Linked DNA regions of Homo sapiens. The protein of the gene in region 1 purifies or fractionates together with the protein of each later gene. This does not show direct contact. Each region holds a gene or a part of one and is shown on either strand. Other genes may lie near its edges. The genes, in order: CMTM2, MARCHF6 and PRADC1.

Region 1 (3,314 bases):
TTGGGAGGCTGAGGTGGATGGGTCCCTTTGGTCCAGGAGTTTGAGACCAGACTGGACAACATAGGGAGACCCTGTCTCTACAAAAAAATTTAAAAATTAGCCAAGCATGGTGGCACATGCCTGTTGTTCCAGCTACTCAGGAGGCTGAGGTGGGAGGATGGCTTGAACCCAGGAGGTCAAGGCTACAGAGAGCTCTGATGGTGCCACTGCACTCCAATCTGAGTGACAGAGTGAGACCCTGTCTAAAAAATAATAAAAGAGGTGTCAAGAAGCCAGGCACAGTGATGTGTGCCTGTAGTCCCAGCTTCTCAGGAGGCTGAGGCAGGAGAATGGCATGAACCCGGGAGGCAGAGCTTGCAGTGAGCCGAGATCGTGCCACTGCACTCCAGCCTGGGCGACAGAGTGAGACTCCATCTCAAAAAATAAATAAATAAAATAAAATAAAATAGACATCTATCCAAACCTGCACAAATTGTATTTTAGGTGACACTTCAGGAGCATTTCCTTAGAGATGCTTACTAGCTTCTCTTGTATTCAACATTGTGATAGAGACCTTAGTTCAATATGACAAGAAAAACAAAAGGTATAGAGATTGACAAGAGGAAAAATCTAATAGAATTATCTACACAGAAAATCTAAGAGAATCTACAGTCAAATCACTAGAACTGATTGAGTTCCACAAGGTTACCAGACACAAAAGCAGTAGTGTTCCTGAATACCAACAATGAACAATGAGAAACATAGGATTTTTTTGGCTGGGCACGGGGGCTCACAGCTGTACTCCCAGCACTTTGGGAGGCCGAGGTGGGTGGACCACTTGAGGCCAGGAGTTCCAGACCAGCCTGGCCAACATGGTGAAACACCAGCTCTACTAAAAATACAAAAATTAACCAGGCATGGAGGTGCATGCCTGTAATCCCAGCTACTCGAGAGGCTGAGGCATGAAAATCGCTAGAACCCAGGAGGCAGAGGTTGCCATGAGCCGAGATGGAGCCACTGCACTCCAGCCTGGGTGACAGAGCGAGACTGTCTCAAAAAAAAAAAAATGCTCTTTAAAAGAAATCACTTAAAACAGCAACACAAACTACAAGGTGTCTAAGAATAAACCTACTGAAAGATGTGTAAGACACTACATAGAGATTATAAGACTTTAGTAATGGACATCAAAGGAAAATGTAAATAGAGAAACATTCCACATTCACAAATATGAAAACTTATCATAGAGATGTCAATTCAATTCTGAATTAATCTATAAATTAAATAAAATTTCAACCTAACATGGGTTTTTCATGGCACTTTTACAAGGTGATTCTAAAATTCTTATCAAAGAAGAAAAAATACTAACAAGGATGGACTCACCCAACAAGATATCAGATTTACCATAAAGCTTTGGTACTAGCTCAGGGATTGACAAGAAGACTAACAAAATTGTTACAGATTGAATGTTTGTGTCTCCCACTCTGCAAAATCATACGTTGAGGCCCTAACCCCCACTGTACTGTACTTGAAGATGGGCCTCTAAGGAGGTAGTTAAGGTTAAATGAGGTCAGAACATTGGGGCCCTGATCAAATAAGTGTCTTTTGTTTGTTTGTTTTGAGACAGAGTTTTGCTCTTGTCACCCAGGCTAGAGTGCAGTGGCACAATCTCAGCTCACTGCAACTTCCACCTCCTGGTTCAAGCATTCTCCTGCCTCAGCCTCCTGAGTAGCTAGGATTACAGACATGCGCCACTAAGCCCGGCTAATTTTGTAATTTTGACTAGAGACAGCGTTTTGCCATGTTGGCCTAGCTGGTCTTGAACTCCTGACCTCAGGTGATCTGCCTGCCTTGGCCTCCCAAAGTGCTGTGATTACAGGTGTGAGCCACCACACCCAGCCAGTATCTTTATAAGAGAGCAGAGAATTCTCTCTCCCGCTTGCTCTCTCTCTACACACACACACATGCACACACATACACACGCACGCATCAAAGAAAGGCCATGTGAAAACGTAGTGAGAAGACAGCCATCTGCAAGCCAGGAAGAGAGCCCTCACCAGAAACTGAATTTCCTGGCACCTTGCTCATGGACTTCAGCCTCCAAAACTGCGAGAAAGTTAATGTCTGTTGTTTAAGCCACCCAGTCTGGGATATTTTATTATGGCATCCTGAGTAGACTAATACAGGGATAGAAAAGAGAACTCAGAAATAGATCTACAAACATATGGCAACTTGGTATATGACGGAGGTAGCATTATAGAACAGTTGAATAGAATATTCAATAAATGTCCCTGGGATTTGTGGACAGAGAGGAAGGGAGGGAGAGAGACAGACTATGTATCCCATTAAAATTAAAACTTCAACAGAAGACATCATAGGCCAGGTACAGTGGCTCACACCTATAATCCCGACACTTTGGGAGGCCAAGGCAGGAGGATCACTTGAGTCCAGGAGTCCAGGACTTGGAGACCAGCCTGGGCAACACAGGGAAGCCCTGCCTCTACAAAAACAATTTTTTTTTTTTTTTTTTTGAGATGGAGTTTTGCTCTTGTTGCCCAGGCTGGAGTGCAATGGCGCAATCTCGGCTCACCGCAACCTCTGCCTCCCGGGTTCAAGTGATTCTCCTGCCTCAGCCTCTTGAGTAGCTGGGATTACAGGCATGCACCCCCACGCCCAGCTAATTTTGTATTTTTAGTAGAGACGGGGTTTCTCCATGTTGGTCAGGCTGGTCTCGAACTCCCAACCTCAGGTGATCCGCCCGCCTCAGCCTCCCAAAGTGCTGGGATTACAGGCGTGAGCCACTGCGCCCAGCTTACAAAAACAATTTTTTTAATTGCACAGTGGCAGGTGCCTATAGTCCCAGCTGAGGCTGAGGTGGGGAGGATCACTTGAGCCCAGGAGTTCAAGACTGCAGTGAGTGGTAGAAACACCCTGTGTCTCATTTCGTTCATTCATATAGTAGGCTACATCAGTTAAAATTAATAAATCTATATTTCTCAATGTGGATAAATCTCAAAAGTCAAAAAGCAAGCATTGAAAGGTAGGATACTTTTTATTTAAATATAAAAAGTGTATTTTGAAATACACAAAATAGTATACATTGTTTATAAATATATAATATGTAGAAAAGCACAAATTCAGACAGGAAAACTGCACATCAGCTTCCAAAAGTTGGAGGAGGGAGGCATGAGGGACAGGAAAAGGGAAGGAAGCGAGGGGGCTGCAGCTCCATCCGTGAAGTTGGACTTCTTGTTTTCAAAGAGGCCTAAAGGGGACGTTGGCAAGACGTTAACATCTGTTAAATGTCAGTGGCTCCTGGCCTGGTGGAGGTGGGAGTC
Region 2 (3,658 bases), on another chromosome or scaffold:
ATTCATACCAAAGAACTCTTCATTAATGGCGAAACTTGTCTATCCTTGTCCTCTTAGTAAAAGTTGTAGGTATTTGCAGTAAGGGTCAGTGTGGACAAAATGTGAAATAAATTAATTCTGTCAAAAAATACTAAATGTTGGCTAAGTAGTTACCTGTTTCATTGTACCTTTAAATACTCAGTTTTTCCTTGACCTGATGCTGTAGGGCTTGGCAACTCTTGTGAAATTTCATAGATCTCGTCGCTTACTGGGAGTCTGCTATATTGTTGTTAAGGTAATTCCTGTTATAACTTAAAATTGGAAATGATTTCTCCTACATTTGGGTGATACTGATGACCTTTATTTTCACTTAAGGTCTCTTTGTTAGTGGTGGTAGAAATTGGAGTATTCCCTCTCATTTGTGGTTGGTGGCTGGATATCTGTTCCTTGGTAAGTTGAGTATTCATTATTGTATAATAGCATAATTTAAGGGCTTCAAAAGAGGAAGTCTTCAGCATGTATTCTTTTTAAAGGAAAGCAAATATTTGATAATTTGCTTATTCTTTTGGCATGTGTATCAGTATAGGATCTTAATGTTAATTTTTCTTGAGTACCTGAGTTTTTGAGGCTTTGTGCAAATTTTTGATGTCAGGATAGTTTGGGTGGAATCTTTCTAATAGTGGAGGATTTTATTGCCCATTTTGCTGTCGTAAATTTGTGTAGATAATGCCAAGACATTATATACATAGAGAATAATTTGATAAGGAAACTGTCTTTGTAGTAATAAATTTAACCCTAATCATTTGATTTAACTAATATGCTCAGTCTTGATTATACTCTTTAATTGCTGTTAGTGATAATCAGTTTTTGATTGTTTCAAAAATATTTTATGTGTAGAAAAGCTGCCTTTGGTTCTGAGATAACATTTACCCTCCCATACCTTACTTTTAAAACTTCTCAAGAATGCAGACCTATAACCAAGAAAATTTTTTACATTCATCAAAAATAGTTCTTTAATAGAATCAGTATTAATAAAGCTTTTACTAATTGGTTTATCATTCTTTATATTTGAAGCAGTAGCCAATCTTGTATATAGTTCTGTGACACCGTGGAATGACATTAAGTGAACTGCAGTTCTAGGAATTGTTCCTTGCATGCATATTGATTATTTATTTCCTAGAAGATGAAAATGTTAACTTGGCAAATGTAGGGGGCACAGATTTCTCTTACCTGTCCTCTTTTGTCTCAGGAAATGTTTGATGCTACTCTGAAAGATCGAGAACTGAGCTTTCAGTCGGCTCCAGGTACTACCATGTTTCTGCATTGGCTAGTGGGAATGGTATATGTCTTCTACTTTGCCTCCTTCATTCTACTACTGAGAGAGGTAAGTCCACAGGGAAATGCTGATGCTGTACATTTATAAAAAGGACTTTTGCTTTCACCACCAGTCATGTCTCAAAGGCTATGATGATTTCCTACCTAAATCATATTCTCTACTATTTTATTCTAAGAGGGAATAACTTATAGGGGACTTTGACTTAATTACTTTAAACTGTTTCAGTTGTTTGTCTCCATAATTGGCAAGTTTTAATATTTCTGTCTGAGTTTGAAAGACGATTCAACTGAGGAAAAAGATAAGAGTACTCATTTTGTCACACTTCGTATATACTTTAGCCATCCTCTAATACAGACTCTTGGAATTTTGTATGATGTGAGTGTGTCTCAGACTTCAAGGAACTGTACTGCTGGAAATAACCAAAAGGATATGGTTTTGCAGGATCAGACATGTAAAATCATTTTGATTTAGGCGCCTTAAGTATAGAATTACAATGAGGGTCCTTTATGATTCCAGTTCACTGGCCTGATGGATTACCTTTATTTATTTATTTATTTATTTATTTATTTATTTATTTATTTATTTACTTATTTACTTTTTGATACTGAGTCTTGCTCTGTTGCCCAGGCTGGAATGTAGTGCCATGATCTTGGAACCTCCACCTCCCAAGTTCAAGTGATTCTCCTGCTTGAACCTCCCAAGTAGCTGGGACTGCAGGCACCCACCACCATGCCCGGCTAATTTTTGTATTTTTAGTAGAGACAGGGTTTCACCATGTTGGCCAGGCTGTTCTTGAACTCCTGACCTCAAATGATCCACCCACCTTGGCCTCCCAAAGTGCTGGGATTACAGGTGTGAGCCACTGTGCCTGGCCTGATACCTTTATTAGTTCTATGTTTCTAATCTGGTTCTTAGTGATTTGAAGATGATGAAAGCAGTTGAGTATTTGATTAGTGTACATCTCAAGCTCAGTCATTCCCCAAATACTGAATGGTCACTGTGTGCCGGACACTATACTGCATTCTGGGGTTTCAGTGAGAAACAAAGGCACAATTCCTGTTCTCCTCGATTTTATAGCCTGAAAATGAATACAGCATTGAAAATGTTGGTTTACACGGAGACGGGTGATGGAGATGTGCAGGGTGTGGAGGACCAGGTTGACAATTCCAGTGAGAAGGGAACACAAAAGCACAAAGGCTGAATGCTGCTCTTGGTGTACTTTGTTCTTTGAAAGATTTGAGGAAGAGGAGGAGGGGTCAGGGACCAAAGCATTCTCCTGAATCATACGGTATAATTTCAGTAAATTCTCTTGGTAACTAAAGCTTTCATTCTTTCTTTGAAACAACTGATTGAGAACTAAAGCAAGTACAGAAATGTGTTTCTTAAAAATGTAATTATATGTGAACTCCAGATTACTTCATTAAGTGAATAAAATGCTTTATAATGATTTCTTTCATTTTATCAGTGTGGTGGTTTTTGTTGATATAAAATTTTAATATGTGGAACTTAGGCAGAACCTTAGAAATCACACACTGTAACCCCTTGTTTAGGAGATGGAGAATAGAAGTTTGGGCAGATTAGATGCGTTACACAGAGGGTAACTCAGTGAGTTTGGACCACATAGAACTAGTACCCAGACTCCTCCTTTACCCCATCACCTGCAGCCTCTTGGGTGATGATTTTCATTTACAGGGGGAAGGCAAATCAGACCGTCTATTTAGTACATTTATAAATTGCAACATAACCCTTTTACGATAGTAATGGTTGTATTTATTTTTCGTCTCAGAGGTCTAGATTTCTTGACACATTGGACCCAATGAATGTTTTTTTTTTCCCCCGCCCCTAGTGAATGATGATGTCAAAGGACATCATCAGACACAGGGTAGTTTTCATAAAGATTCTGGTTTAGGAACTTACTTTCCTAAGAATACCATGTACATTTTCTGGGGCCCACTTTAGATGCCAGAATAATTCTAAGTGCTTATCTTTCTGTTAATGTTTTAGCTCATATATAGAATTTGAAGACATTGGTGAATATTCATAGTATTTAAAATATATTTGCAGGTACTTCGACCTGGTGTCCTGTGGTTTCTAAGGAATTTGAATGATCCAGATTTCAATCCAGTACAGGAAATGATCCATTTGCCAATATATAGGCATCTCCGAAGATTTATTTTGTCAGTGGTAAGAAGATGTTTCCATTGTTTTTTTTTTTTGAATTAATTGTGCTAACCTATAGTTTTGTTTAGGTTTTTTTTTCCAGTTCTCAAGCAGGCTGATAGAGTATATTGAATAATATATTTATCTAAGCCTGTGGTATTCAGTTGTCAAGTAGCTGTGTTA
Region 3 (2,888 bases), on another chromosome or scaffold:
CCCTGCCACTAGTGGACCCCGTTGGCTGAAGCCAGGACCCTGAGCCCAGACTATAGCCAGCCCAGCTGAAGACACAGGGTCTGGGATCTGAACCTGAACCAGCTTGTTCCTGGGAGGCTTCTTACCTGTACTCTTTATCCTTCAGGCTTCCGTATCCATGATTATTTGTACTTTCAAGTGCTGAGTCCTGGGGACATTCGATACATCTTCACAGCCACACCTGCCAAGGACTTTGGTGGTATCTTTGTAAGTTAAGGGAGGCCCCTGATCTCTGATCCTCAACCTCCCCCTTCCCCTCACTGAGCTGCAGTGACCCTCTCATCCCACCTGAGTGCTGGGACAGGGAAGGGAGCAGAATCAGCTCTGCCTTCCATGAGCTGCAGCACAGAAAGGAAGCTCTTCCAGCTACTCCCCTGAGTATAATATAAACCTAGGCACCATGGAGGGACAAGTTGTCTTTTTAGGGGACATGAAGTGAAAAGCCAAGAGCACCAGCTTCCTCTGCCAGCTCTACCTGTGAACTATGTGACTTAAGGCACATCACTTCCTCTCTCTGGATCTACAACCAAGTCCCCTGCCTATCTCATAGAAGGGTAGGGTGGTGTAGGACAACCAGATAGGCCTTTGCGAGAATTAAGTAAAAATGTTTAAGTGTCTGGCGATACAGAAACCACTCCATGTTTCCTTCACACTTTATAAGGTGCCAATAAGATGGGATTGTCAGCCCAGTCCTAAAGCAGGTGTGTCTCATTACACTCTCACCTGTCCAAATGTTAAATGTTTTTCAGCACACAAGGTATGAGCAGATTCACCTTGTCCCCGCTGAACCTCCAGAGGCCTGCGGGGAACTCAGCAACGGTTTCTTCATCCAGGACCAGATTGCTCTGGTGGAGAGGGGGTAAGGAGTGGGCAGGCAGGACACGAGGAGTGGGCAGGCATACGGCAGATTCTGAGATTATTGGTAGTAGTGCTTTGAAAGAGCTGTTTTTGAAAATTTCATCTTTTTAAGCGTCTTTAAGAAATGTCTAGCCTGGGCAACATGGAGAAACCCTGTCTGTACAAAAAATACAAAAATTAGCTGGGCATGGTGGTGCACACCTGTGGTCCCAGCTACTCGAGGCTGAGGTGAGAGGATTGCTTGACCGCATGTTAAGGCTGCAGTGAGCCGAGATCACGTCACTGCACTCCAGCCTGGGCAACAGAGCAAAACCCAGTCTCCAAAAAAAAAGAAAAAGGAAAAAGAAATGTATTTAAATTATCCATGCTTTTAGCTATTTACTTATGAGCCTTTATAACAGATTCTTCATAGTCTGCCTTCTATACTCCCAGGGTGATGGTCTGGGGAAGGGGGAGCTAGGACCTGTCTTTCCTTTGGTCTTATCACCACCTCTTCCAGGGGCTGCTCCTTCCTCTCCAAGACTCGGGTGGTCCAGGAGCACGGCGGGCGGGCGGTGATCATCTCTGACAACGCAGTTGACAATGACAGCTTCTACGTGGAGATGATCCAGGACAGTACCCAGCGCACAGCTGACATCCCCGCCCTCTTCCTGCTCGGCCGAGACGGGTGAGGGCTCCTTGCCTCTGGCTTTATCAGCACCAGGCTGGGCGCCATGACTGGGTCAGGGGTAATCACCAGTCCCTTCTTGCAGGCCTCAACTTGGGGTGCTTCAGTTAGAGGGCAAAAAAAGATCTCGGGCTTTGGAACTCCCAGATTGATGGGGACAGTGGGGCATGATGGGGTACCAAGAAAGTGACCGTCACCACCTCTCTTCATGCCCTCCCAGCTACATGATCCGCCGCTCTCTGGAACAGCATGGGCTGCCATGGGCCATCATTTCCATCCCAGTCAATGTCACCAGCATCCCCACCTTTGAGCTGCTGCAACCGCCCTGGACCTTCTGGTAGAAGAGTTTGTCCCACATTCCAGCCATAAGTGACTCTGAGCTGGGAAGGGGAAACCCAGGAATTTTGCTACTTGGAATTTGGAGATAGCATCTGGGGACAAGTGGAGCCAGGTAGAGGAAAAGGGTTTGGGCGTTGCTAGGCTGAAAGGGAAGCCACACCACTGGCCTTCCCTTCCCCAGGGCCCCCAAGGGTGTCTCATGCTACAAGAAGAGGCAAGAGACAGGCCCCAGGGCTTCTGGCTAGAACCCGAAACAAAAGGAGCTGAAGGCAGGTGGCCTGAGAGCCATCTGTGACCTGTCACACTCACCTGGCTCCAGCCTCCCCTACCCAGGGTCTCTGCACAGTGACCTTCACAGCAGTTGTTGGAGTGGTTTAAAGAGCTGGTGTTTGGGGACTCAATAAACCCTCACTGACTTTTTAGCAATAAAGCTTCTCATCAGGGTTGCAACTGTGTCCTAGAATAAGAGCACACGGGTGGGCAGGACCTTCAAACTCACTCGTATCGTCCCATACTGTCGTTCTGAGGAAAGGAAACACCCACAGAGGACAGTGACTGGCCTAGGTCATTTGGGACCAGTGCTCAGACTGCTAGTCTTAGATCCCAGCACAGCTTCCTGCTAGGAGCCAAGGAAGCCCTGGGAAGCCAGAGTTCAGCCCCTCAGGAGAAGACTCATCTTAGAGCCTGGAACTGGGGGTCCAAACTGGACCTCAGGGCTAGGCATGGTGGCCCATGCCTGTAATCCCAGCACTTTGGGAGGCCGAGGTGGGAGGATCAGTTGAGGCCAAGAATTCAAGACCAGCCTTGGCAACAACATAGCAAGATCCCATCTCTACAGAAAAATTAAAAATTAGCTGGGTGTGGTGGTGTGAGCCTATAGTCCCAGCTACTCAGGAGGCGGAGGTGGGAGGATCACTTGGGCCCAGAAGTTCAAGGCTGTAGTGAGCTATGATTGCATTGCTGCATGCCAGCCTGGGTGACAAGG

Evidence for each region.
Region 2: the proteins of CMTM2 (region 1) and MARCHF6 purify together in Homo sapiens (affinity purification with mass spectrometry; one large-scale study listed by BioGRID and IntAct). This does not show direct contact.
Region 3: the proteins of CMTM2 (region 1) and PRADC1 purify together in Homo sapiens (affinity purification with mass spectrometry; one large-scale study listed by BioGRID and IntAct). This does not show direct contact.

What each region holds. Positions count from the first base shown.
Region 1 is NC_000016.10:66,582,457-66,585,770, forward strand, and holds part of CMTM2 (CKLF-like MARVEL transmembrane domain-containing protein 2), read left to right. Parts: intron 1-3,314.
Region 2 is NC_000005.10:10,402,179-10,405,836, forward strand, and holds part of MARCHF6 (E3 ubiquitin-protein ligase MARCHF6), read left to right. Parts: intron 1-185; exon of another isoform or gene 186-205; coding exon 206-274; intron 275-354; coding exon 355-429; intron 430-1,228; coding exon 1,229-1,363; intron 1,364-2,392; coding exon of another isoform or gene 2,393-2,443; exon of another isoform or gene 2,444-2,762; intron 2,763-3,379; coding exon 3,380-3,499; intron 3,500-3,658. UniProt on the Homo sapiens protein: Endoplasmic reticulum membrane-associated E3 ubiquitin ligase that plays a critical role in mitigating endoplasmic reticulum stress, the regulation of cholesterol and lipid homeostasis, and ferroptosis.
Region 3 is NC_000002.12:73,227,471-73,230,358, reverse strand, and holds the end of PRADC1 (protease-associated domain-containing protein 1 precursor), read left to right. Parts: intron 1-145; coding exon 146-246; intron 247-788; coding exon 789-898; intron 899-1,396; coding exon 1,397-1,564; intron 1,565-1,784; coding exon 1,785-1,905; 3' UTR 1,906-2,349; downstream 2,350-2,888. UniProt on the Homo sapiens protein: Plays a role in the modulation of physical activity and adiposity.